Homo sapiens: one gene and its partners. The protein of the gene in region 4 interacts with the protein of the main gene of each other region in a biochemical or structural test. Each region holds a gene or a part of one and is shown on either strand. Other genes may lie near its edges. The genes, in order: GTF2F1, GTF2E1, GTF2A1 and TBP.

Region 1 (4,126 bases), on a different chromosome or scaffold from region 4:
CGGGAGGCTGAGGCAGGAGAACTGCTTGAGCCCAGGAACCAGAGGTCGCAGTAAGCCGAGATTGTACCACTGCACTCTAGCCTGGGCAACAAGAGTGAAACTCTGTCTCAAACAAAAACAAAAACAAAACACATTAGCCAGGCATTTAATGGTACACGCCTGTGGTCCCAGCTACTCAGGAGGCTGAGGTGGGAGGATTGCTTGAGCCCATGAGTTCAAGACTGACCTGGGCAATACAGTGAGACCTCACCTCTACAAAAAATTAAAAAATTAGCTGGGCGTGGTGGTGTGCACTACTTGAAAGGTTAAGGTGGGAGGATCGCTTCAGCCCAAGAGGTGGAGGTTGCAGGGAGCCAAGACGGTGGACACTGCAATCCAGCCTGGTGAACAGAGCAAGACCCTGTCTCAAAACCTAAAATATAAATAAAAATAAAACCATGAAAGATGGGACCAAAACATAAGGAATAAGACATTATCCAAACAGAGTAGCAGATCTAAAAAGGAAACAAAGAAATCTGAGCAATTTATTATTATTTTTTATTTATTGAGACAGAGTCTCACTGTCACCCAGGCTGGAGTGCAGTGGCGTGGTGTCAGCTCACAGCAACCTCCACCTCCCAGGTTCAAGTGAATCTCGTGCCTCAGCCTACGGAACAGCTGGGACAACAGGCTCCCGCCACCATGCCTGGCTACTTTTTTTTTTTTTTTGTGCCAGGATTTCATTCTGTCACCCAGGCTGGAATGCAGTGGCACCATCATAGTTCACTGCAGCCTTGAACTGGGCTTAGCCTCCCAAGTAGCTGGGACTGCAGGCGCTCACCATCATGCCCAGCCAAAACTGAAGACTTACTGGGCTATGTGGTGGATAAGTCACAGCTGAAGAGAGACTTAGGGAAGTGGAAGGGAGAACTGTAGAAGTTACCCAGTGGGCAGCACAGGCCCTTGGTCAGTGTGAGGGAGGCCGAGCCAGGAGGAGGAGGACAATAAGAAGGCCTAACAGGCATCTGAAGATTCCAGAAGGAAGGGCCAGAGGAGGAGATGGCTTAACTTTTCCAGAATTGCTAACTACGGGGCCCTGGGAGTCAGGGAGCAAGCAGGATGTCGAAGGGTCACTGAGAGCCTGAAGTTCTGGAGGGCAGAGCCATGTATTGGACAGAGCCTCACTCTAGGATGGCGAAGGGGCAGTGAGAGCCTTAAGTTCTGGGGGGCAGAGCCATGTATTGGACCAAGCCTCACTCCTTGAGGGAGAAGTGCATTTTGTCGTTGATCATCTTGCGCTCGGGGTTGAGTCGCTTGAGGATCTGGGCCAACACGTTCACTGTCTGCTCGCTGCTCAGCCCTGTCTTCTTGGTCTGGAACTTTTTCAGCAGGTCCTTAGTGGTCATGGGCTTCCGTGTCAGGTAGCGGCGCACGGCATCCTCAGTCACCTGCACGTCGCTGAGGATGGGAGGACGGGGAAGGTGGCATCAGTGAGATTGTCCCCAGTAGCCCTTGCCCTGCCCCCTGCTGTCCTCGTCAACTTACCCGCTGTTGGGTGTTGTCTTGCCTGATGGTGGCTGGGGTGTCGACTTCCCAGACAGGCTCTGGGGTCCCGTGTCCAGCCGCAACCGCTTGGCTGCAGGCATCTCGCTCACCCGCTTCCCTGTGGGAGTGGGGTCAGGGCTGAGTCTTGCAGGCAGGAGGCAGAACCCCTGGGCAGGACCCCAGGCTGGGCAGTGCCAGGATTAGGGTTCAAGGGGATCAGGGAGAGACAGGCCTCCACCCGCATCTCCATCCCCTCTCTGTCCTGAGCCCCAACAGAGGTCAGGAGGCTGTGGCTGTGGCTGTGGGGAGCGGGGAGGCCACGGGCACTCACCTTGCTCGAGTTTGCTGGCAGCCGCCCGCAGGGTGGAGGAGGTGCTGCCACCCTCTGCGCTGGGCGTGCCTGGGCGGCTGTTGCCCCTTGAGCTCCCTCCCGACGGCTTCCGCTCTCTCTTGGGTGGCGTCTTCTTCTTCTGCAGAGGTCAGGGTTGGGAGGTGGGTGAGTCTGCAAACAGACGCCCAGGCCTCCCCCGCCACCGGGCTGGGCCTTACCGCCATGAAGAGGGCTGAGGAGGCCTCGCTGTCAATGTCGCTCTCCTCTGAGCTGTCCGACTCCTCGCTGCTGTCTGCGGGGCACAGGAAAGGGGTCAGGGCCAGAGCAACCCCGGGACCCGGTGCCCACTGGTGCCTCCACTGCAGATGAGGGAGGCCTGCAGGGGAGAGGGGAGGAGGTGGCAGGGCGCCAGGGCCCGACCCAAGCCTCCAATATGGGGGCCACATGCGCCGCACCTTTCCTGCGCTTCTTCTCCTGCGGGGTGGGTGCCTTCTTCTCCTCCTCCTCCTCCTTGTCCTCCTCAGGCGGCTTCTCCTCCTCACTCTCCTCACTACTGTCGCTCTGCTCATCGACACCTGGGAGGGGCAGGGTATGAGCAAGAGCAGGGAAGCACCGCCCCCATCTCCCCGGCCCGCCCAGCCATCGCCTACCCTTGGGCCCCTCCTCCTGCTGCGGCGCCTTGGCCTTGCTCTCAGGCTCTTCTTGGGAGCTACTGTAAGACGGGGATGGCAAAGGATGAGCGCGCGCTCGCGAGGCTGCATGGGGTCTCGCAGGCGCCTCCCGTCGGCCTCACCTGGAGCCGTCTGACATGTAGTCCACCTCTTGGCCCTCGAAGTCCCCATCATCGCTGTCCTCGAAGGCCTCGTCGTCTGAACCCTTCTTCTTCTTCTTTTTCCTGCCGCCCTTGGCCAGCGGCGCCTTCTTCTTGGCCTTGGGGACTCTGCCCCCTGGGAAGGGAGGAAAGGAAGGAAAGGAGGGAAAGTGAGGAGGAAGGCAGTGGGTATTTATTGTGTTTTTCACATTTTGTGCAGTTTTGACATCCTGGGGGGCCTCACTGACTGGGGAGACTACACCTCCAGGGCCAGCCCAGGAGCTCAGCTCTCCTAAACAAACTCCCGGCAGACCCCACACCCCCACCCACCTTCTCTAGCGCTCACAGACCACTCCCCCTCTCCCAGACCACCCGGGCGAGGCACCTGATAACCAGGGACACAGCCCCTACAGCCCGGAGCGCACAGGAGTTATTGAAACTGGTCAACCTAGAGTTGCAGTTTCTCATAGGAACCCCCGTAAAGGCCACAGCCAGGCCAGGTGCAGTGGCTCATGCCTGTCATCCCAGCACTTTGGCAGGCTGAGGCGGGAGGATGGCTTGAGCCCAGGAGTTTCAGACCATCCTGGGCAACACAGTGAGTGAGACCCCAGTCTCTACAAAAAACACAAAAATTAGGCCGGGCGTGGTGGCTCACGCCTGTAATCCCAGCACTTTAGGAGGCCGAGACAGGCAGATTACCTGAGGTCGGGAGTTTGAGACCAGTCTGGCCAACATGGTGAAACCCCATCTCTACTAAAAATACAAAAATTAGCCAGCATGGTGGTGCATGCCTGTAGTCCCAGCTACTTGGGAGGCTGAGGCAGGAGAATCACTTGAACCTGGGAGGCAGAGGTTGCAGTGAGCCGAGATTGCGCCATTGCACTCCAGCCTGGGCAACAGAGCAAGACTCTGTCTCCAAAAAAAAAAAAAAAAATTAGCCGGGTGTGGTGGTGCACGCCTGTAGTCCCAGCTACTCAGGAGGCTGAGGTGGGAGGATCGTTTGACCCTCGGAGGTCAAGGCTGCAGTAAGCTGTGATTGTACCACTACACTCCAGCCCATGTGAGAGAGAGAGAGATCCTGTCTCAAAAAAAAAAAAAAAAAAAAGAAGGGCCATGGCTCAGCTCTCCCGGGCTCTGGCCTTGCCTCCTGACTGACATCACTGCTCCTCCAGGCGGCCTCGCCTGACTCTCATTCTTTTTTCTCTGAGACGGAGTCTCTCTCTGTTGCCCAGGCTGGAGTCCAGTGGCGTGATCTCGGCTCAACACAACCTCTATCTCACGGGTTCAAGCAATTCTCCTGCCTCAGTCTCCCGAGTAGCTGGCACTAGAGGCATGCACCACCATGCCCAGCTAATTTTTGTGTTTTCAGTAGAGACACGGTCTCACTGTGTTGGCCAGGCTGGTCTCAAACTCCTGATCTCAGGTGATCTGCCTGCCTCAGCCTCTCAAAGTGCTGGGAT
Region 2 (7,033 bases), on a different chromosome or scaffold from region 4:
TTCTGAAGCCATATGTTGTGTTCTGACAACTGTTGAGGATGTAAAACAACAAAAAATGAAAACGGGGTTCAAGTACAATGTATAGACCAAACCGAAAAGGAGAGAAAAGTGTGTCCAGTAGTATGCTGTGGTACTACTTTGGTGTCGAGCCCAGGTACTTCCCAGGCATCCTTAAGCCCTGGGGTAGCAGGAAGGCTCTAAGTTCACAGATTTGGATCTAGGTGCTACTTTGTTATATCTTACAATATGTAGTCATACCTGAGTATTTATAACCTAAAGTACGTATTTTCTTTTGACTGACTTTTACTTTTCCTTTATTACAGGAAGGGCCTTATATTTTCCCCCCAAAATATATGCATAGATTGGTTATAGATTGGTGTATAGAGTTTCCTTATAGTATGGTACTGTGGATATAAAAATATTTCTTATAAAAAGAGTATTAAATCTGTTGGGTTGATAACCACTGATTTCAAATAAAAGGGTTAGTTGAAACTAGTATTAATAACAGAATATGATTCTCCATTGAAATAGTTCAATGGGATGTCTCTCTTAAAAATTATCCTGTGGAGCCTGGCTAAGATGGTGAAACCCTGTCTCTACTAAAAATTCAAAAATTAGACAGGCGTGGTGGTGCATGCCTATAGTCCCAGCAACTCAGGAGGCTGAGGCAGGAGGATTGCTTGAACCTGTGAGGCAGAAGTTGCAGTGAGCCGAGCTTGCGCCACTGCACTCCAGCCTAGGTGACAGATCGAGACCCTGTCTCCAAAAAAAAAAAAAATTATCCTGTGGGCTGGGTGTGGTGGCTCACATCTGTAATCCCAGCACTTTAGGAAGCCCCCAAGGTAGGTGGATCCCTTGAGCCCAGAAGTTCGAGACCAGCCTGGGCAAAATGGTGAAACCCTGTCACTACAAAAAACACAAAAATTAGTCAGTCATGGTGGTGTCCACCCGTAGTCTCAGCTACTGGGGAGTTTGAGGTGGGAAGATTGCTTGAGCCCAGGAGGTTGAGACTGCACTGAGCCAAGTCACACCACCGAACTCTAGTCTGGACAACAGAGCAAGACACTCTCTCTATGAAAAGAAAAACAAATTCCCTGTGGCCTAGGGAAATTTAACTTGATTTAATCTGTGTGGATAGTCTAGCCATTTTTAGTTTGGAACATGTTAAGTTGATATGGAAGCTGTCCTTCCTAAGCACTTTAATTATATTCTTATTAATCACAACAACTCCACTGAGGTAGTTGATACTATCCTTACTTCTTAGCGAGTAAAAGGTGGCTTGAAATTGTTTAAGGGATTTGCTCAGGATTACACAGTTACCAAAACACAGGCTGTGTACTCTGAATTTCAAAGCCCAGTTTTGTGTTGTTTTGTTTTTTTGTTTTGTTTTTTTTTGAGACTGAGTTTCGCTCTTGTTGCCCAGGCTGGAGTGCAATGGTGTAATCTTGGCTCACAGCAACCTCCACCTCCCGAAGCCCAGGTTTTTATTTTATTTTATTTTATTTTTTATTTTTATTATTTTTATTTTATTATTATTATACTTTAAGTTTTAGGGTACATGTGCACAATGTGCAGGTTAGTTACATATGTATACATGTGCCATGTTGGTGTGCTGCACCCATTAACTCGTAATTTAACATTAGGTATATCTCCTAATGCTATCCCTCCCCGCTCCCTCCTCCCCACAATAGGCCCCAGTGTGTGATGTTCGCCTTCCTGTGTCCATGTGTTCTCATTGTTCAATTCCCACCTATGAGTGAGATATATGCGGTGTTTGGTTTTTTGTTCTTGCGATAGTTTACTGAGAATGATGGTTTCCAATTTCATCCATGTCCCTACAAAGGACATGAACTCATCCTTTTTTATGGCTGCATAGTATTCCATGGTGTATATGTGCCACATTTTTTAATCCAGTCTATCCTTGTTGGACATTTGGGTTGGTTCCCAGTCTTTGCTATTGTGAGTAGTCCCGCAGTAAACATACGTGTGCATGTGTCTCTATAACAGCATGATTTATAGTCCTTTGGGTATATACCCAGTAATGGGATGGCTGGGTCAAATGGTATTTCTAGTTCTAGATCCCTGAGGAATCGCCACACTGACTTCCACAAGGGTTGAACTAGTTTATAGTCCCAACAACAGTGTAAAAGTCTGTTCCTATTTCTCCACATCCTCTCCAGCACCTGTTGTTTCCTGACTTTTTAATGATTGCCATTCTAACTGGTGTGAGATGGTATCTCATTGTGGTTTTGATTTGCATTTCTCTGATGGCCAGTGATGGTGAGCATTTTTTCATGTGTTTTTTGGCTGCATAAATGTCTTCTTTTGAGAAGTGTCTGTTCATGTCCTTCGCCCACTTTTTGATGGGGTTGTTTGTTTTTTTCTTGTAAATTTGTTTGAGTTCGTTATAGATTCTGGTTATTAGCCCTTTGTCAGATGAAAAGGTTGCAAAAATTTTCTCCCATTCTGTAGGTTGCCTGTTCACTCTGATGGTAGTTTCTTTTGCTGTGCAGAAGCTCTTTAGTTTAATTAGATCCCATTTGTCAATTTTGGCTTTTGTTGCCATTGCTTTTGGTGTTTTAGACATGAAGTCCTTGCCCATGCCTATGTCCTGAATGGTAATGCCTAGGTTTTCTTCTAGGGTTTTTATGGTTTTAGGTCTAACATTTAAGTCTTTAACCCGTCTTGAATTAATTTTTGTAAAAGGTGTAAGGAAGGGATCCAGTTTCAGCTTTCTCCATGTGGCTAGCCAGTTTTCCCAGCACCATTTATTAAATAGGGAATCCTTTCCCCATTGCTTGTTTTTCTCAGGTTTGTCAAAGATCAGATAGTTGTAGATATGCAGCGTTATTTCTGAGGGCTCTGTTGTGTTCCATTGGTCTATATCTCTGTTTTGGTACCAGTACCATGCTGTTTTGGTTACTGTAGCCTTGTAGTATAGTTTGAAGTCAGGTAGCGTGATGCCTCCAGCTTTGTCCTTTTGGCTTAGGATTGACTTGGCAGTGTGGGCTCTTTTTTGGTTCCATATGAACTTTAAAGTAGTTTTTTCCAATTCTGTGAAGAAAGTCATTGGTAGCTTCATGGGGATGGCATTGAATCTATAAATTACCTTGGGCAGTATGGCCATTTTCACGATATTGATTCTTCCTACCCATGAGCATGGAATGTTCTTCCATTTGTTTGTATCCTCTTTAAGTTCATTGAGCAGTGGTTTGTAGTTGTCCTTGAAGAGGTCCTTCACATCCCTTGTAAGTTGGATTCCTAGGTATTTTATTCTCTTTGAAGCAATTGTGAATGGGAGTTCACTCATGATTTGGCTCTCTTTTTGTCTGTTATTGGTGTATAAGAATGCTTGTGATTTTTGTACATTGATTTTGTGTCCTGAGACTTTTTGCTGAAGTTGCTTATCAGTTTAAGGAGATTTTGGGCTGAGACAATGGGGTTTTCTAGATATACAATCATGTCATCTGCAAACAGAGACAATTTGACTTCCTCTTTTCCTAATTGAATACCCTTTATTTCCTTCTCCTGCCTGATTGCCCTGGCCAGAACTTCCAACACTATGTTGAATAGGAGTGGTAAGAGAGGGCATCCCTGTCTTGTGCCAGTTTTCAAAGGGAATGCTTCCAGGTTTTGCCCATTCAGTATGATATTGGCTGTGGGTTTGTCATAGATAGCTCTTATTATTTTGAGATACGTCCCATCAATACCTAACTTATTGAGAGTTTTTAGCATGAAGAGTTGTTGAATTTTGTCAAAGGCCTTTTCTGCATCTATTGAGATAATCATGTGGTTTTTGTCTTTGGTTCTGTTTATATGCTGGATTACATTTATTGATTTGCGTATATTGAACCAGCCTTGCATCCCAGGGATGAAGCCCACTTGATCATGGTGGATAATAAGCTTTTTGATGTGCTGCTGGATTCGGTTTGCCAGTATTTTATTGAGGATTTTTGCATCAATGTTCATCAAGGATATTGGTCTAAAATTCTCCTTTTTGGTTGTGTCTCTGCCCGAAGCCCAGGTTTTTAAAGTAAACTATATGCCAATGTGGGCTTTGAGAAGACAGCTTTCTGGGTCATGGTACGGAAATGAGATACACTTAGTTTCTGCTTTGTCAAGGGATCCAGTATTTAAGAATATTTTGGGCTGCTCTCCCTCCCTCATTTTCTACCTTTTTAAGGACTGGATGGTCTTTCCTTGATTATCAGATTCAATTTTTCAAGGTTGGTAAAACTGTCTGGATCTAAGTATTACTTTCTTTCAGTTTTACAACAGTTAATGATTTTGTCAAACACCCCAGGTGGTGATTACTCATGTGTTTATTGGTTTGTTGTGATTTTATTGTGAAAGCATGACTATGTAAAACATCCTAGAATCTTGGTAGAAAAATTTTACTCAAGAAAGGAAACAAAGACACTTTTAGGAAATGCGAACTGCTAGTTTTCTCAGGGTTTCCAGCATTCCCAAAGAATAGTGAGCATTTCATGTAGCTTTTTTTGTGTTTCTCTTCTGAAGTAAAGTAGACTTGACGTAATATATTGTTTTATAAATAAAAAGTTACTTTTTAATCAAACACACTATAGATCATAAAAGTAGCCATTTAAGAAATATGTAAAGCTTTTTGGGTGTAATCTTTTGTGCATTCTAGAGGAAAATCTTGTTCTGCTCTGTTAAATGCTTAGGTATTAGAAATCTTTTTAAACACTTTGGGTACTTTTCTGGCACTGCAAGGATAGTGGATATGATTACCATGTTCTTATACCTGGCTAATTTTCTGTTTTTTTTTGAATTCAGTATATTTAAAGTTGGAGTTCGTTGCTAAAGATGGCAGACCCAGATGTCCTCACTGAAGTTCCAGCAGCATTGAAGCGGTTAGCCAAGTATGTGATCCGGGGATTTTATGGCATTGAGCATGCCTTGGCCTTGGACATCTTGATCAGGAACTCCTGTGTGAAAGAGGAGGATATGCTGGAGCTGCTCAAGTTTGATCGGAAGCAACTTCGATCAGTTTTGAATAATTTAAAGGGAGACAAGTTTATCAAATGCAGAATGAGGGTAGAGACTGCTGCAGACGGGAAAACCACTCGCCATAACTACTACTTCATCAATTATCGTACTCTTGTTAATGTGGTAAAATATAAACTGGACCACATGAGAAGAAGAATTGAGACCGATGAGAGAGATTCGACCAACCGGGCTTCCTTCAAATGTCCTGTCTGTAGTAGTACTTTCACAGACTTAGAAGCTAATCAGCTCTTTGATCCTATGACAGGTGAGGTTTATCCAGTTTGTGAATCTTTAAAATAAAGTGTGTATTACCTTTTTTCTTAAATTGATTCATCTAATTTTTAAACCATCATATATATTATTATAAAAGTGAATGGATCAGTGTAAATCACAGCATACAGTCAGTCTTACTGTCCTGTTTGGCTGTCGCACTACTTTGAGAAGCCTTTGCAAAGCGTTTCTCCTTTACAAGGGAGTTTCTCACTTATGGCCCTCCTGCCTCTGCCCACCCCACCTTGTTTACAACTGCAGCCTAATCTGAAGGGTTGATTTCTCTACCACTTTGAGGCTGTTCTAATTTTATTTTTGACCTCTAGACAGTTGCAATACAGTGTATTTAAATGCTTTGTTAGTGGAAGTAGAAAGTGGTATCAGGAGTATATAACTAGGGCATATAATCTGGATTTGGGGAAGGCCTCTGGAAGAAGTTAACATTTGAGACCTAAAAGATAGTAAGAGTTAGCTAGATGAAATAAGAGGGGAATTCTTTCCAAGATAAGACATTTAGTGTCCTTTAGATACACATTATTGTTGGAAGAAAATTGTCAACAAGATATATAATTGGCCTGATTTGATTGAATAGTTTTAAGGATTTTTCATAACACAATTTAGAAAGCATGCATTATCTGAAAATACAATATGTCTAGCATAAACATGAGAAACTTTAAAGTTCTGAGTTATATAGTTATTTTATCTTGTTATCTGTTTACACAATAAAAAAGAGACTAGTTTTGCTAAATACTCGATCAATTTTGTCTTATTTTCTACAGGTAAAAATCTATAGAAGGACTCAGTGCTATTAAATTAGATTAAGTCCCTTTGTTATGGTTGAATTCAGGAGTATAGGCTACTTTTTAGTTCATAGATCTGCTTTTTTAAAAACTTCGTCTGAAAGTTTAAACTTTGACCCATGAAATATTTGGTTGTGCAAAATTACAGATTTCTGTGTATGTTTTATTTTCTAATTTTTATGTTATATATGGTACATTTTAAATAATTAAAAAAAATTTTTAAGTGGGAAATAACCCCAATATAAATTAAGATTATTGACAAAAAGAGCCAGAAGCAATCTGTGACCTTTTTTTCTTATTTACTGTGAGGCAATGATTTTGGATGAAAACTGATTTAAGGAATTCACAATTGTATTAAACATTTAATTTGTCTGAGCCGAGCTTTTTACCTTGAAAGGGCTCCACAAGGAGAGATCTTGATTATAAGAAAGTCTTAACCATCCTCGGTATGAGAATTGCTTGAGTGTTCTATAGAGGAAGGTTGTAGAATATATCTGGAGCTCTTCAAAATAGACTAGAAAAGTCTCATGATTCTTGCCATTCACTCTAACAGATTTCTTACAGGAGCTCTGGGTTCTTGGTTTTGTAATTCTCTACAGATGTTGGTTTTAACAGTGGAGGCTTCATCACTCTTGACCACAGTAGAAGGTGTTATCCAGTCCCTTAGAGTAATCTAAAATAACATGCTTCTACTACATTTATTTGTCATTTGAGTCATATTAATTTAATTAAACTTTCTAAAAGGAGATGATTCCACTACTTATATATCAGTATTTGGGAGACTGATCATGATACTCTTGAATTTCACCTGGATTCTGAATGAAACTAGTTGACTCAATAGATGGCCTGTGGAAGAGATGGCCTAACATTCCATCCAGTACAGTCAAGGTGACTTGAATCAAGGAGTTAGGGTAGAGGGCATGAAAGTATTTTATGAAATAAAGCTAAAACTG
Region 3 (7,605 bases), on a different chromosome or scaffold from region 4:
CAAGTTTTAAAATGCATTGTGAGGCTGGGATGCTGTTAGATATTCACCACTTGAGTTATCAAAATTTGGCTGAGTTTCTTGTAAAGTAAGCATTGGCCACTGACATCATTATTTAAAAAAAAATTTTTTTTTTGAGACAGGGTCTCGCTCTGTCACCCAGGCTGGAGTACAGTGGTGCAATCTTGGCTCACTGCAGCCTCTGGGTTCAAGTGATTCTCGTGCCTCAGCCTCCTGAGTAGTTGGGATTACAAGTAGGCACCAGCATACCCAGCTAATTTTTGTATTTTTAGTAGAGATGGGTTTTCACCATGCTGGCCAGGCTGGTCTCAAACTTCTGACCTCAAGTGATCCACCCACCTCAGCCTCCCAAAGTGCTGGGATTACAGACCTGAGCCACCACTCCCAGCTGTTGTTGTTTTTTTGAGACAGAGTGTGTCTCCAGCTCTGGTGCCCAGGCACGATCTTGGCTCACTGCAACCTTTGCCTCTCATGCCTCAGCCTCCCAAGTAGCTGGGATTACAGGCACATGCCACCATACCTGGCTAATTTTTAGCAGTTTTAGTAGACACAGGGTTTCGCCATGTTGGCCAGGCTGGTCTTGAACTCCTGGCCTCAAGTGATCTGCCTGTCTCAGCCTCCCAAAGTGCTAGGATTACAGGCATGAACCACAACATGCAGCCATCATGATTAAAATGTAATGGTAGTGTTCTACAAAGTGATTTAAGAACATCTTTCCCCAGCTTTGATGATATTGGTGTAGCTGTTACAGTTACCATTAATAATAAAACACCCACCAAATACTTGTCAAAGCACTTCCTACTACCTTTGATTTTCCAACAACGATAGGTGGTGGTGATTATTTCACCTTATTGACACAGAATCATGGCACAATGTCACACAGGAATTTAGTGGCAAGAGTCAAACCTGATTCCACCAAAACTCCACACTAAGTTAATTTACTTTTGCTAAAAACTACAAACTGGTCTACACTTTGTTCTACAGAAAATAACTTAGAGCTGGTTGGTGTTTTAAGACATGAAGTAGCAATTTCAAACTAAGTTACAACAGACAAAGATAATTTAAAAAGATTTTAAAAAATCTCTTCATCACATGTATAGAACTAATTTGTATGGTCAGCAATTTCTTATAGCCACCATCAAAAATTTGTGCATGTGAAAATCGGCAGTTTCTTTGAAAATGACAAAAACATAGGTGAAATCTGAATGCAGTATAATTTTTTTTGGTAGGACTGAAATATGTATGCTTTCAACAGCTTAAATGAATGCTATGACTATGCACTACACTTTAAAACAGGGACTTTCATTAAGATTGGTAAACTTGCTTGGCACGGCGGCTTACGCCTGTAATCCCAGCACTTTGGGAGGCCGAGGCAGGTGGATCATCTGAGGTCAGGAGTTTGAAACCAGCCTGGCCAACAATGGTGAAACCCCGTCTCTACCAAAATTACAAAAATTAGCTGGGCGTGGTGGTGTGAGTCTGTAATCCCAGCTACTTGGAAAGCTGAGGCAGGAGAATAGCTTGAACCCACGAGGCAGAGGCTGCGGTAAGCCGAGATCGCACCACTGCATGCCAGTCTGGATGACAGAGCAAGAGTCTGTCTCAAAAAAAAAAAAAAAAAAAAAGAAGGAAAGAAAAAAAATGATTAGTAAGCTCAAGGCATCTTTCTTCTTCAATTCTGTATCCTCCCAAAGTGCCCAATACATACTGAGCATACATACATACATACATACAAAGTGCCCAATACACACTGAGCATACATACATACAAAGTGCCCAATACATACTGAGCATACATACATACATACATACAAAGTGCCCAATACATACTGAGCACTAGGGCCTAAATATGCCTCAAAACTAGTTTTGTTTTTTTTCTTTCTTCACTATTTAAGAAAATGGAGTTTGCTGGGAAGTCACAAGATTTTAGTTTAAGCCAATTTCCACAATCTTTTTAGACTCTTCTCTTTCTTGGCATTGTTGCTAAAATAGTCATTTGGACAGTAAAATATTTAAATGTTTGGACACAGAAGGTTTGCTGTCATTTTGTTGATGGTGTAGCAAAATTTATACATCGATTTTTTTTCCCTTTTCTTCTCTTGTTTTACAGTTATCTAGTGTTTAGGCTGCATATTAAAAGAAAGACGCAACATTTTAACTCCCAGTATAAATCATTTTGAAGTTAAAAAAAACACATAAACATTCATCACAAGGAGAGTACTATTATGTATCTATCTAAGTACATAGCTGCTACAAAGTGTAAGATCACAAACAGCAAATCCTGTATAAATGTTTTATATAGTAGAAAGAGCTGTTAAAGTTAGAAACGTCATTCAAGCTGTAGGAGACCAAGAATAAAAAGTTCAGATAGAAACAATTTAAATATGATGCTAAATGTAATCTTACTTGGGAGAAGTTTTCTCTCACAAATTTTGTTTTGTGAATTAAAGGGCTGCAGCTTCCAAGTATTCAGTCCTACAATTTTGGTATAACAGAAAATATTTCTTTCCGAAACTAAACTGGATGGCACACATATGTTGCAATGAAGGCATATAACAGCTATTGAGGGACTGGAAAACCAATATATTGGAATGGAATCCATGATGGCTAGATGCCAGACACACAAGCAATCTAAGTTCCTGGGTAAATATTAACCAAGTGCTTAGGTCTTGTTGCAATCTAGGTGTAAAGAGAGAAGCCAACTCAGAGCCTCCAGGGAGTCTGATGGTCTTAAGGAGGCCAAGACTAGGTTTTCTGCCATTTTAATCCAGTAACTACAATCCATTATTTCACAGATTAATTCTGTGAAGAGCAAACCTCGTAGCTTTTCTTCCCTGTCCTGTCTGCAGTGGTTTTAACTTTAATTGATGGCGAAACTACTCAACCTTTTAGTCAAGAATATCAATAGTAGGGGGGAAAACTAGGTGGAAGGTGAGGGATTCCATGTGCAAAGCGTTTGGGAGTATGTAATAGGGAGGTAACAAGAAGTCCTCTCAATATGTAGTAAAACTTAACAGGAATGGTATTGTTTAGTGTAAATTTTCGGGCTGTCACCTGAATATTAAATGAATTACAAATGTTGATAGAATCATAACTTTATATAATATACCAAGAACACTGATTTCCTGTGATTTTTTTCTTTAAGTGTCCCAGACCATGCAGCTGTGCAGGAAACTGGGAAGCAACTGTTAACAGGGGAATGGACTTGGCGTGAAAAGAAATGTCAAGGTTCATAGATATCCTCTACACCCATTCACAATCTCCCATTTTCTGAGTATTCAAGGCCTCTGGTTTCTCTAATCCCTTTCTTCAAGTCTTGGCAAGATGCATTTTTTTTCCTCTTTGGTAAGACGCCTTTGATATTCTTCAAATCTGGTTTCACCAGCACAGAACTTTGACGTTTCGTTTTGCTTTGTCTCTGGAAGACAAACTCCCTCACTCATCCACGCGACATTTCAAGTCCCTCAAAATTCCCAGGGACAAGAAAACTAGGTACTATGAATTCTGCCTTCCAAACAGCATTCTCTGTTCTGCTTGCAAGGTCGATATAAAGGCAGGATTTGCTTGGGCAGAACAAGTCAAAAGCTTATTGAATTGCACTTATTGAATTGAACATGGAACACAGCCGGCTTGCTCTCTTATAGCGAGAGGCCATGCGAGTTGGTGGGTCAAGGGCATGCATTTCAAAGTGATCAGTCACTATACGTTGGCCACATGGAGTCGCAGTATTTTGGCAATATTTTTAAAAACCAGGGAAAGTTACTGTGCTGTTACAATCCAAAGGCTGGTGGGGTTTTCTTCCACCCCGCATTTCCACTAGCGTGATAAATTATTTAAAGTACGTGGCCTAGTAGAGGACTAACCTCTGGGTAACATAAGCCTAGTCTTCGCAGCGTACCCACTGTGGAAACAAACGAATCAGACGTTACTAATTGTGGAATGTTAAAAGTAGGCCCCGATCGGCTTTTACTCCCTTTGGAAAATCCTACACAATTCTGCGCGCGAAAGACCCACCCTCGGTGAGGCGGTGAGGCGCGAACGCCGCGAAGCTCACAGTCAAAGCCTCGCTGACAAATCAAGAGATGACTCCGCATTTAAAACCTTCCCGAATAGGAACGCGCCAGAGGCCGGAAGCCACGCCACGTGACCAGTCCTCCTCCGCGGCCATTCCTAGCGAGGCAGTAGGCACCGCCTCTGTCACATTTCCTAGCTCCTAAAGCGCGGGACCAGGCGGAAACGTGCGACAGGAGGCGGTCCCACCTAGCTTTGGACTGGAGTGTCAGTAGAACTCCCGTCTTTTCCAGCAACGCTTTGCAAGTTCTTCACCGCAAAGAACTGCCGCAGACTTCCGCCTGGGTGCCAACCACGTGATCACGCGAGCGTTGGAGAGGCGTAGGTCCGATTTCACTACTTCACTCCCCGGGCTCCGCCAGTCCAGTACCCGCCACGGCGCGTGACAACGCGGCTCGCCGGCGGCCTCCGCCCCGGCGCGCCTGCGCACGCGGCTCTCGCGGTGTCTCGCGCTCAGCCCCGCCCACCTCTGCCCCCGCCCTTTCCGCCCCTCCCTCCCCCTTCACCCTGTCTCTCGGCGGCGGCGGCGGCGGCGGTGGTGGCTCGCGCAGCTTGTTGGCTCGCTATATAAAGGAGAGAAGCGGGCGGACCGGACGGCTGGAGCTGCAGCCGGTGGCGGCAGCGGCGGCGCAGGGAGCGGTGACCGGTGGTGGTTTCCCTCCTTGGCGCGGGGTGGGGAGCGGGCAACGCCCCCCGGACCCCTGAAGGGTCGTGGCTTTTTTTTTTTTTTTAAGGCGATTCTCGAGGTTTTCAGCTGCGGGAGGAGTGCCCCCCTCCTCCTCCTCTCTCCGCTCTCCCCTACTCCTTCAGGATTGATTTTGTTTAAAATTTTTTCCCCAATCTTGCGGTGATTTGGGTCACCCTCCGGGTGTTATAGTTTTTTTTTTTTTGGTTTTGTTTTTATCTTGTTTTCTTGGGGTTGCCCCCTCTTGTTTGTGTTGTGTGTGGAAATGGCGAACTCGGCAAATACAAACACCGTGGTAAGGACGTGGTTCGGTGGCCGGCGGGGGCTTCGTTCAGGCTGCAGCAACGGCCGGACCGGGCGGGGGCGGGGACGGCGGCGACTCCCGGCCTCGACTCTTCAGCCGCCCGCGCGGCCGCCGCCGCCGCCGCTTCCCGCCTCGGGCGGATCGGGCCGGAGCGCCGGGCGGCGGGCGCGGGGGGGCGCCGAGGGCTCGCGGCGCGGGGAGGGCGGGGGCGCCGGTGGGGCCTGGGGCCGCCGCGGGCCGGGCCGGGCCGCGGAGGCGGTTGGGCCCGGTCGGGCGCGCAGCCCCGGCCCCAGAACCCGGCCGCCGGGAGGGAGGGCGGGAGGGGAGCCGCCGCTTCCCCCCGAGGGGCCCGTCCGCGCTGGCTTGACGAGGGCTCCCCGAGTGGCTACAGAACAAAAACTGTGTGTGGGGAATCGGGCGAACCCCCGAGACCCATCGTGATCCACTTTAATGCAGTGGAAGATTAATGGTTACTTTGGGGGTTTCTTAGGTTGTTTTTGGCGGCTGTGCTTTGGGAACCTTCTCTGAGGCCATTTTATGTTTAAAAAAAGGACGAAGGTTGGTTGAAAAGCACTTATCTCAGTTCCTTCCGAATGGGTAAAATGGCGAAGGGGAAGACCCCCATCGTATCTTCGCCTAGCAGAAGCACCAAAACAAACAAAAAAAGCCTGCAGTGGTCCAAGTGTCCCCGCTTTCGCCTTGAAATTTACCTACTTCTTCCCGTTGGTCCCTTTTTGTTACTTGCGATCACGTAGGTTTGCAAAAAGCAGTCACATAAATAACCTTTTCAGTCACCAACGCAGTGTGATCACTAGTCCACCCAACTCTTATTTTTATGATGACAATAAAACACGTTTTTTGCCCGGTCCCAAATGCCGCAGACCAGCCCGCGGCCGCCCGACACCGTACCGTTGGCGACTCGGGTCTAACCATCATGGCTGCGGCCGCTTACCCTGCTTTTCAGTCCCTGAGCCTTGTGGTCCTCCTCCCTTTGGCTGCCCTGTTTATATAGAGCCATTGCCGCTCTCTAATATAGACTCTGCCAGGATGGGAAGGTGCTTTTCAGGCCTACGTCACCGCCTCTCCATTTAAACACCAGATCCGGCTTTAAATAGTGAGAGCTGCTGAGAGCGGGGCTGGGAGGTGCGTGCTCCCGAGGCAAGAGCCAGGCGTGTGCAGAGCTCAGTTTATTTCTAGGTCCTTTTTTCACCCTGTGATTTCGCACCCGTCGCGGGCTGCTTTCAGAGCCCCAAGTTTTGGTTTTGTTCCCAGCAGCAGCTAGGATTTGCCTTCTTTGTTTGCTAGGGGGAATATATCCGAATCGCTGTCCCTTTTTGTTTACAATTTTCAAAATTAATTATTTAAAACAAAGAGTTTTAGATCAGATGGTCTAGCCATTTTTCTTATGTGCATTATTTTCGGGAATTTAAAAAACTGCTTTCTACATGGAAAATGTTAGCTGCAGAGGACTTGGTTTTGGTAGTGTTTTGTTCAAGTATTCAGGAAATAATGTTAGAAATATAGCTCCTAATATTTCATTATGTTTTCCTATAGTAAATATAAAAGACACGAGGCTTTTCAGAGAAATAGATAAGTACCTAAAGCTTCAGTATAGGACCATTTATGTGTAGGAGAATCGTGAGTAGAGGGAAGAGACAGACTGCAAACTAGATTAAAAAAAAATCTAAGTAGAACTTTATTGCCTTGGATATTAACATGGGTATCCGGTATAAAAATTATTCCAATTTATTTTCCAGCATTGCATCAGGGAATTAACATTTTTGAAGGAAACCTAACAAATGACTTAATAATGCCACTAGTGGCCCTCTGATTTACCAGTTCTTAAGTTTGAAATAACCTGTTTTTTAAAAATTAGGACAAACTTAAATTGTATTTCGTGAAAGAAACTTTGCCTCAAGTATTAGTGTAGAATTTTAAGCAATAATTTAGAAATTGCTTATTTCAAATACTCCTATGTGCCCACATACTTTTCAAAAATTAGTATCTTGAAGGCTTTTCAAATTGTGAACAATTCTGCTAAATTACTCGTTAGGCATATATTTTGTGAAGAATACACATTTCCCTTCCTTCACCTATAGGGCTTATGAAGCTGTTAAGTGGTCAAGTTGTGAGTTCATTAAGGCACAAAAATAAAATCTTAATGATTTATTAAGTTGAGAGTACTAGAAGAAAGCAGATTTATACCTACACATGTCTGGATCTCCAAGCAAAAGGTTTTTAGAGGTAACTGACTTCAGAAACGCCAAAACACCATCTAGTTTACTGAAAAGCATACATATTGTCAATTTGAGATTTATACTCCCAATTTAAAATACATTGCCCTCCTAACGCCTCGAGGAGTAATTATTGGTTAAAAAAAAAAAAGCACTTTATAGAGATACTTTTGTAATTCAGTTAAGTCACTTTAGGCAAGATGATGTCCATAGTCAGATATACTTTCCTTATATATAGAATTAGAATGTTAAAGTAGGGACTATAGAAATGTGCATTTTACAGATGAATAAACT
Region 4 (7,033 bases):
CCCTCACCAAATTATTTTCTAGTTTTATTTTTCCCCTTTTACATTTCAAGCTCTCAACCACCCATCTACTTTAAAAATTTTTCAGCCTGGGTGCAGTGGCTCACGCCTGTAATCCCAGCACTTTGGGAGGCCAAGGTGGGCGGATCACCTGAGGTCAGGAGTTCGAGACCAGCCTGGCCAACGTGGTGAAACCTCATCTCTACAAAATATACAAAAATTAGCCAGGTGTTGTGGCGGGTGCCTGTAATCCCAGCTACTCGGGAGGCTGAGGCAAGGAGAATTGCTTGAACCCGGGAGGTGGAGGTTGCAGTGAGCAGAGGTCGTGCCACTGCACTCCAGCCTGGGAGACAGAGCGAGACTCTGTCTCAAAAAAAAAAAAAAAAAAAAAAAAATCAATAACTTTTGTTGAAATATACATACAAAAAAACTCATTTTAAGTGTCTGTTTTGATAATTATATATAATGTATAAATTACAGAACATTTCAGTTACCTTAAAAAGTCCCTTCTTCCCCTTTATAGTCACTCTGCTGGCCCCAGGTAACTACTGCATCTGCTTTTCAATGCTGAAGATTAGTTTTGTCTATTCTAGAATTTCATATAGATGGAATCAGAGTGTATGCTTTTTTGTGTATGTCTGACTTCTTAGCCCAGTGTACTGTTTGTATATCAGTAGTTAATCCATTGTATAGCTAAGTATCACTCCATTGTTTGGATGTTCCACAGTTCATCCATTCTCCAGTTGCTCACATTTGGGGTCTTTCCAGTTTGGAGCTATTGCGAATAAAAGCACTGTAAACATTTGTGTAGACTTTGAATGCACTGTTTTTACTTCTCATGGGTAAATACTTAGGAGTAGGATTGCTAGGTCCTATATTGGTATATGTATAACTTTATAAGAAACTGCCAAACTGTTTTTTGAAGTGGCTGTATTGTTTTGCAGCATAAGAGATTTAAGTTGCTCCACATCCTCACCAACACTTTCTGCTGTCAGTCTTTTTACTTTCACTCTAGTGATTGCTTAGTAGTATCTTATTGTGGTTTTGATTTTTATTTGCCTGATTACTAATGTTTCTGAGCACCTTGGCAAGTGCTTGTCAGCCACTCATACACAGGCCCACCTCACTTTACTGCACTTCACTTTACTGCATGTTTGACAAATTGAAGGTTGTGGTAAACCTGTACCCAGCAAGTCTGTTGGCATTATTTTTCCAAAAGTGTGTACTCACTTCATGTCTTGGGGTTAGATTTTGGTAATTTTTGCAGGATTTCAAACTTTTTCATTATTATCCGTTATTGTTATCAAACTTTTTTTTTTCTTTTTTTTTGTATTTTTTTTTTAATTTTTTTTTTCAGTCACTCTGTTGCCCAGGCTGGAGTGCAGTGGTGCAGTCTTGGCTCACTGCAAACTCCATCTCCCGTGTTCAAGCGATTCTCCTGCCTCAGCCTCCCAAGTAGCTGGGATTACAGGCATGCGCCACCACACCCAGCTAAATTTTGTATTTTTAGTGGAGACGGAGTTTCACCATGCTGGTGTCAAACTACTGGCTGCAAGTGATCCATCCGCCTTGGCCTCCCAAAGTGTTGGGATTACAGGCATGAGCCACTGTGCCTAGTCAAACCTTTTCATTATTATCTGTTATTGTGATCAGTGATCTTTGATGTTACTATTGTAATTATTATTGAATGCCATAAACTGCACCTGTATAATACAGGAACTTAATTGATAAATGTCTGCAGCGTGACCAACCATTCCCCCATCTCTCTCCCTCTGCTTGGTCTTCCCTATTCCTTGAGACACAACAATATGGAAATTAGGCTAATTAATAACCTTACAGTGACTTTTAATTAAGTGTTCAGATGAAGGGAAGAGCTGCACATCTCTCATTTGAAACCAAAAGCTATAAATGATTATACTTAGTGAAGAAGGCATGTTGAAAGCTGAGACAGGCTAAAAGCTAGGCCTCTTGCACCAAATAGTTAGCCAAGTTGTGAATGCAAGGGAAAAGTTCTTAAAGGAAATTAGAAGTGCTACTCCAGTAAACCCACAAGTGATAAGAAAGCAAAACAGCCTTATTGCTTATATGGAGAAAGTTTGAATGGTCTGGATAGAAGATCATACCACCCACACATCCCCTTAAGCCAAAGTGTAATACAGAGCAAGGCCTTAACTCTCTTCAATTCTGTAAAGGCTGAGAGCGGAGAGGAAGCTGTAGAAGAAAGTTTTGAAACTAGCAGAGGTTTATTCAGAGCTTTAAGGAGAGAGGCCTTCTCCACAACATAAAAATGCAACATGAAGCAGCAAGTTATCTGGAAGATCTAGCTGAGATAATTGATGAAGGTGACTATACTAAATAATAGATTTTTAATGTAGATGAAACAGCCTTCTACTGGAAGAAGATGCTATCTAGGACTTTTATAGCTAGAGAGGAGAAATCAGTGCCTAGCCTCAAAGCTTCAGAGGACTGGCTGACTAGTTAGGGGCTAATAGAGCTGGTGAGTTTAAATTGAAGCCAATGCTCATGTTCTGCTCTAAAACCATAGAGCCTTAAGAATTACGCTAAATCTACTCTGCCTGTCCTCAGTAAACAGAACAACAAAACCTGATGAGAGCACGTCTGTTTACAGCATGATTTACTGGATATTTTAAGCTCTTTGAGATCTGCTCAGAAAAAAAGTTTAATTTCAAAATATTACTCACTGACAGTGTAACTAGTTGTCCACAAGCTCTGATGGAGAAGAACAAGGAGATTAATATTGTTTTCATGCCTGCTTAAATAATATATCCATTCTTCAGCCCATGGATCAAGGAGTAATTTCAACTTTCAATTCTTACTATTTAAGAAATACAGCAGGGCATGGTGGCTCATGCTTGTAATCTCAGTACTTTGGGAGGCCAAGGTGGAAGGATCACTCAAAGCTAGGAGCTCAAGACCAACCTGGGTAACAAAACAAGTCCCTGTTGCTACAAAAAAAAATTTTTTTTTAATTAGCTGGTCATGGTGGCATGTGCCTGTAGTCCCAGCTACTTGGGAGGCTGAGGCGGGAGGGTCACTTGAGTCCAGAAGTTAAAGGCTACAATGGAGACCCTGTCTCAAAGAAAGGAAGCAGGGAGGGACATATGCTGTAGCTGCCATAGATAGTGATTCCTCTGATGAATCTGGGCAAAGTGAATTGAAAACCTTCTGAAAAAGATTCACCATTCTAGATGCCATTAAGAATGTTCATGATTCATGGGAGGAGGGTGAAATATCAACATGAATAAGAGTTTGGAAGAGGTTGATTCCAACCCTCGTGGATGACTTTGAGAGGTTCTAGACTTCAGTGCTGGAAGTTACTGCAGGTGTAGTGGAAATAGCAAGTGAACTAGAATTAGAAGTGAACCTGAAGATGTGACTGAATTGCTGCAATTTTTTGATAAAACCTGAACAGATGAGGAGTTGCTTCTTGTGAGTAAGCAAAGAAAGTGGTTTCTTGAGATAGAATTGACTCCTGGTGAAGAACTGATGACTTTAGAATATTACATAAACTTAGTTGATAAAGCAGCAGCAGGGTTTGAGAGGATTGACTCCAATTTTGAAATAAGTTCTAGTGTGGGTAAAATGCTGTCAAATAGTATCATATGCTACAGAGACATCTTCAGTGAAAGGAAGAGTCAGTCAGTGTGGCAAACTTCGTCAGTCTTATTTTAAGAAATTGCCACAGCTACCACCCTGATCAGTCAGCAGCCATCAACATCGAGGCAAGATCCTCTGTCAGCAAAAAGATTATGATTTGCTGCAGGCTCACATGATTGTTAGCATTTTTAGCAATAAAGCATTTTTAAATTAAGTTATATACATATTATTAGACATAATGCTATTGCACACTTAATAGACTTTAGTGCTAACATAACTTTTGTAGGCACTGGGAAACCAAAAAATTGATGCCGCTTGCTTTATTGAGATGGTCTGGAACCTAACCTGTAGTATCTCCGAGGTATGCCTGTATCTTCATTTGTAATATGTCCTTCACATCTTTTGCCCTTTTTTATTATTTTATTTGTTGATCTTCTTTTATGGAGTTGTCAGAGCTCTTTATTATTCTGTTTACCAGTCCTTTCTCAGATGTATGTATTATAGTTATTTTTTTCCCAGTCTGGCCTGCCTTTTAATTTTCTCAATGGTGTCTTTCAAAGAACAGAAGTTTTTAATTTTTCCGAAGTTCAGTTTATCCATTTTTCTTCATGTTTATCCACTGTGTGGTATTAAAGAAGAAAGCAATGTGTATAAGAATAGCTGGTTCTTCCGTAATTAATGTTTAATAACCCCATTATTCTCCGAAGGCATCTGTCTTTGCACACCTGACCTGCTGTTCCACCAAGAAAGTTCCACAAACACTTAGCAGCAGCCAGCCTAACCTGTTTTTCTCCTTGCTTTCCACAGGGTGCCATGACTCCCGGAATCCCTATCTTTAGTCCAATGATGCCTTATGGCACTGGACTGACCCCACAGCCTATTCAGAACACCAATAGTCTGTCTATTTTGGAAGAGCAACAAAGGCAGCAGCAGCAACAACAACAGCAGCAGCAGCAGCAGCAGCAGCAACAGCAACAGCAGCAGCAGCAGCAGCAGCAGCAGCAGCAGCAGCAGCAGCAGCAGCAGCAGCAGCAACAGGCAGTGGCAGCTGCAGCCGTTCAGCAGTCAACGTCCCAGCAGGCAACACAGGGAACCTCAGGCCAGGCACCACAGCTCTTCCACTCACAGACTCTCACAACTGCACCCTTGCCGGGCACCACTCCACTGTATCCCTCCCCCATGACTCCCATGACCCCCATCACTCCTGCCACGCCAGCTTCGGAGAGTTCTGGGATTGTACCGCAGCTGCAGTGAGTACTTCGTGTTTTATGTTTCCTCCCACTTAGGAGTCCCTTTGAGTTATGTTCCTGCTCTGTTTTCAGATGGATCCTTTTATTAAGGGAGGGAGTGGCACTAACGGTAATTGTGTATCAAAATTTGCTTTATCTCACATTTGGGAAAGGGAAGCAAAGCTATCTTAGTCAGTGTCCTCAGTAAAAGGCTCTTAACAGGTTTAGAAATGTGGTCATTTGTGTTTACATACCTGAGCCAATAAAATTTAATCTGACTTTCACTGTCGTTATTATTATATTATAGACATTTCCCTGTATCTGATATCGCTAAATCACAATGTTAGGTAGTCTCTTTCCCTTATGCTATTTTAGGTCTTTAGTCACAATATCAGTATAATTTCTGGTAGTTCTTGTTTTTTGTTTTTACTATGGGTGCTGCATATAAATCTTTGAAGGTCTGTGTCCTTCCCACAAAATGAAGACGACTGTTTTTGTCATAAATGGATTTTTCTACCTAAATGAAGTGGGTTCTATATGTAACAGTGTAGTAGGGGTAGGAAATAATTTCATCTTCCTGAAAAACCAGCAAATATTTCCAAATAATTCCAGTCAATAAGAAGTGTATAGCTTTTCATTTTAGAAAGCTTATGACCAAATTAAAAGGTTACTTGCAGTCTCTGCATCTCCTCAGTTTTCTTGTACAGATACCTTCCTCCTTCATACTCCCTTTAGATCTAGTATTTCCTATTTGCATTTATTCACCTTGTTACATATATGGTTGTTGTTTATAAGCTATCTCTCATCATTTTTGGAACTAAGTGGTGTGTAATCGTGGATGCTGACTTTCACCCAAAGACCTAAATCTTGCCTCCACAATTTTGTTTGACCCCACACACAATTTTAAAAACAAAGTAATTTTAGTGATTTTAGAGAGAGCCCTTTTTAGCTCACCCTTGTCTATACCACTCCCATGTGTCCAGCATGCTTGTCTGACTCCCAGGAATATTTAAGTTTGCATTTCTGATTTAAATAATAAATTATAAACAGTACAGTCAGGTGTTTGTTTCTTGCGAGTGCCTTTGCTGTTCTGATACTCCCCAGAGCATCCAGTCATCCACATTCCTGAATTTCCACTATCTACTAAGAACCCTCCCGGGTGGTAGTTCAGTGCCCTCTCCATCTTGTAGGCTTAAGAGGGATTAAGGTAAATATTTAATTAATGAAAATATATAAGAATACATTTAACAATTATGTGACTAAAGTTGTGATAGATATACTAAAATCTACTTGGTATAGTTCATAAGTGGACAAATGCTAAAGGCAGGTGTGTATACAAGGGTGATTGGAAGGAAATAGATGATATGGAAATGAAAACATTCATTGTGTGGATCAACCTAATTGGCTTTACAGTTGTGTATCATAGACTGTACAAGAAAAAGAACCAGAAGCAACAATGAGCTGAAACCTATTGTATTTGAACCTATGTATTTGAAATCTGGACTCGATATTCTTGGGATGGTGATTTCCAGGTCCATGCGAGACAGTTGTTGAGCAGTTAATTGCATTCAAAGGGCATTGCCCATTTCAACTATATATACTTTCATAAGCAGAAAAATGTATAATGAAAATGTGGGTTTGTTGTTTAAATTTTTATTAAAATTTCTAATAGAGTTGCTTTTTAGTATATCTTTATCCTTGTATAAGTTATTCGTTAAGTGATTTAAGAACACTGAGAAATGAAAAGGGTCAGTGGACCCAGATGGCTCCATTTATCCTTATTTACTGAGAGTTAATTAGAAGAGAAAGCAGGGTTTTGCCTTTTTTTTTTGCTAAAGACACTTAGCTCTTGTTTTTCAAAAGATACTTACTTTGAGAGAACTGGGCAGTTCATGCCTGCTTGTTTTCATTATAAATAGTTACTTAGGAATAGGGTGGTGGTGGTAGCTTTTCAGAGCTCACAGATGAGAATTGAGTTTGTCTGTGAGAAGGCTAAGGGCAGGCTCTGGAGACAGACAGACTCAAATCCTGGCTCCTCCACTTGGGAGCCATTGCGTCCTGAGCAAGTTGCACTCTACCTTTAAGCCTCAGCTTATTTATCCAAATGTGGGAATACTGGTAACTTCTACCTCAGTGCGTTATATGTATTAAATGGAATAATCTATATAAAATGCTCAACATGTGCATGA

Evidence for each region.
Region 1: the proteins of TBP (region 4) and GTF2F1 form a complex in vitro, tested with the Homo sapiens proteins (3 studies listed by BioGRID, with this or other methods).
Region 2: the proteins of TBP (region 4) and GTF2E1 form a complex in vitro, tested with the Homo sapiens proteins (3 studies listed by BioGRID).
Region 3: the proteins of TBP (region 4) and GTF2A1 form a complex in vitro, tested with the Homo sapiens proteins (7 studies listed by BioGRID and IntAct, with this or other methods).

What each region holds. Positions count from the first base shown.
Region 1 is NC_000019.10:6,379,049-6,383,174, forward strand, and holds the end of GTF2F1 (general transcription factor IIF subunit 1), read right to left. Parts: intron 2,803-4,126; coding exon 2,649-2,802; intron 2,568-2,648; coding exon 2,506-2,567; intron 2,431-2,505; coding exon 2,311-2,430; intron 2,148-2,310; coding exon 2,074-2,147; intron 1,995-2,073; coding exon 1,856-1,994; intron 1,643-1,855; coding exon 1,525-1,642; intron 1,438-1,524; coding exon 1,233-1,437; 3' UTR 524-1,232; downstream 1-523. UniProt on the Homo sapiens protein: TFIIF is a general transcription initiation factor that binds to RNA polymerase II and helps to recruit it to the initiation complex in collaboration with TFIIB. It promotes transcription elongation.
Region 2 is NC_000003.12:120,745,726-120,752,758, forward strand, and holds part of GTF2E1 (general transcription factor IIE subunit 1), read left to right. Parts: intron 1-4,797; 5' UTR 4,798-4,827; coding exon 4,828-5,275; intron 5,276-7,033.
Region 3 is NC_000014.9:81,217,952-81,225,556, reverse strand, and holds the start of GTF2A1 (transcription initiation factor IIA subunit 1), read left to right. Parts: upstream 1-4,597; 5' UTR 4,598-5,038; coding exon 5,039-5,068; intron 5,069-7,605. UniProt on the Homo sapiens protein: TFIIA is a component of the transcription machinery of RNA polymerase II and plays an important role in transcriptional activation. TFIIA in a complex with TBP mediates transcriptional activity.
Region 4 is NC_000006.12:170,557,369-170,564,401, forward strand, and holds part of TBP (TATA-box-binding protein), read left to right. Parts: intron 1-4,422; coding exon 4,423-4,865; intron 4,866-7,033. UniProt on the Homo sapiens protein: The TFIID basal transcription factor complex plays a major role in the initiation of RNA polymerase II (Pol II)-dependent transcription.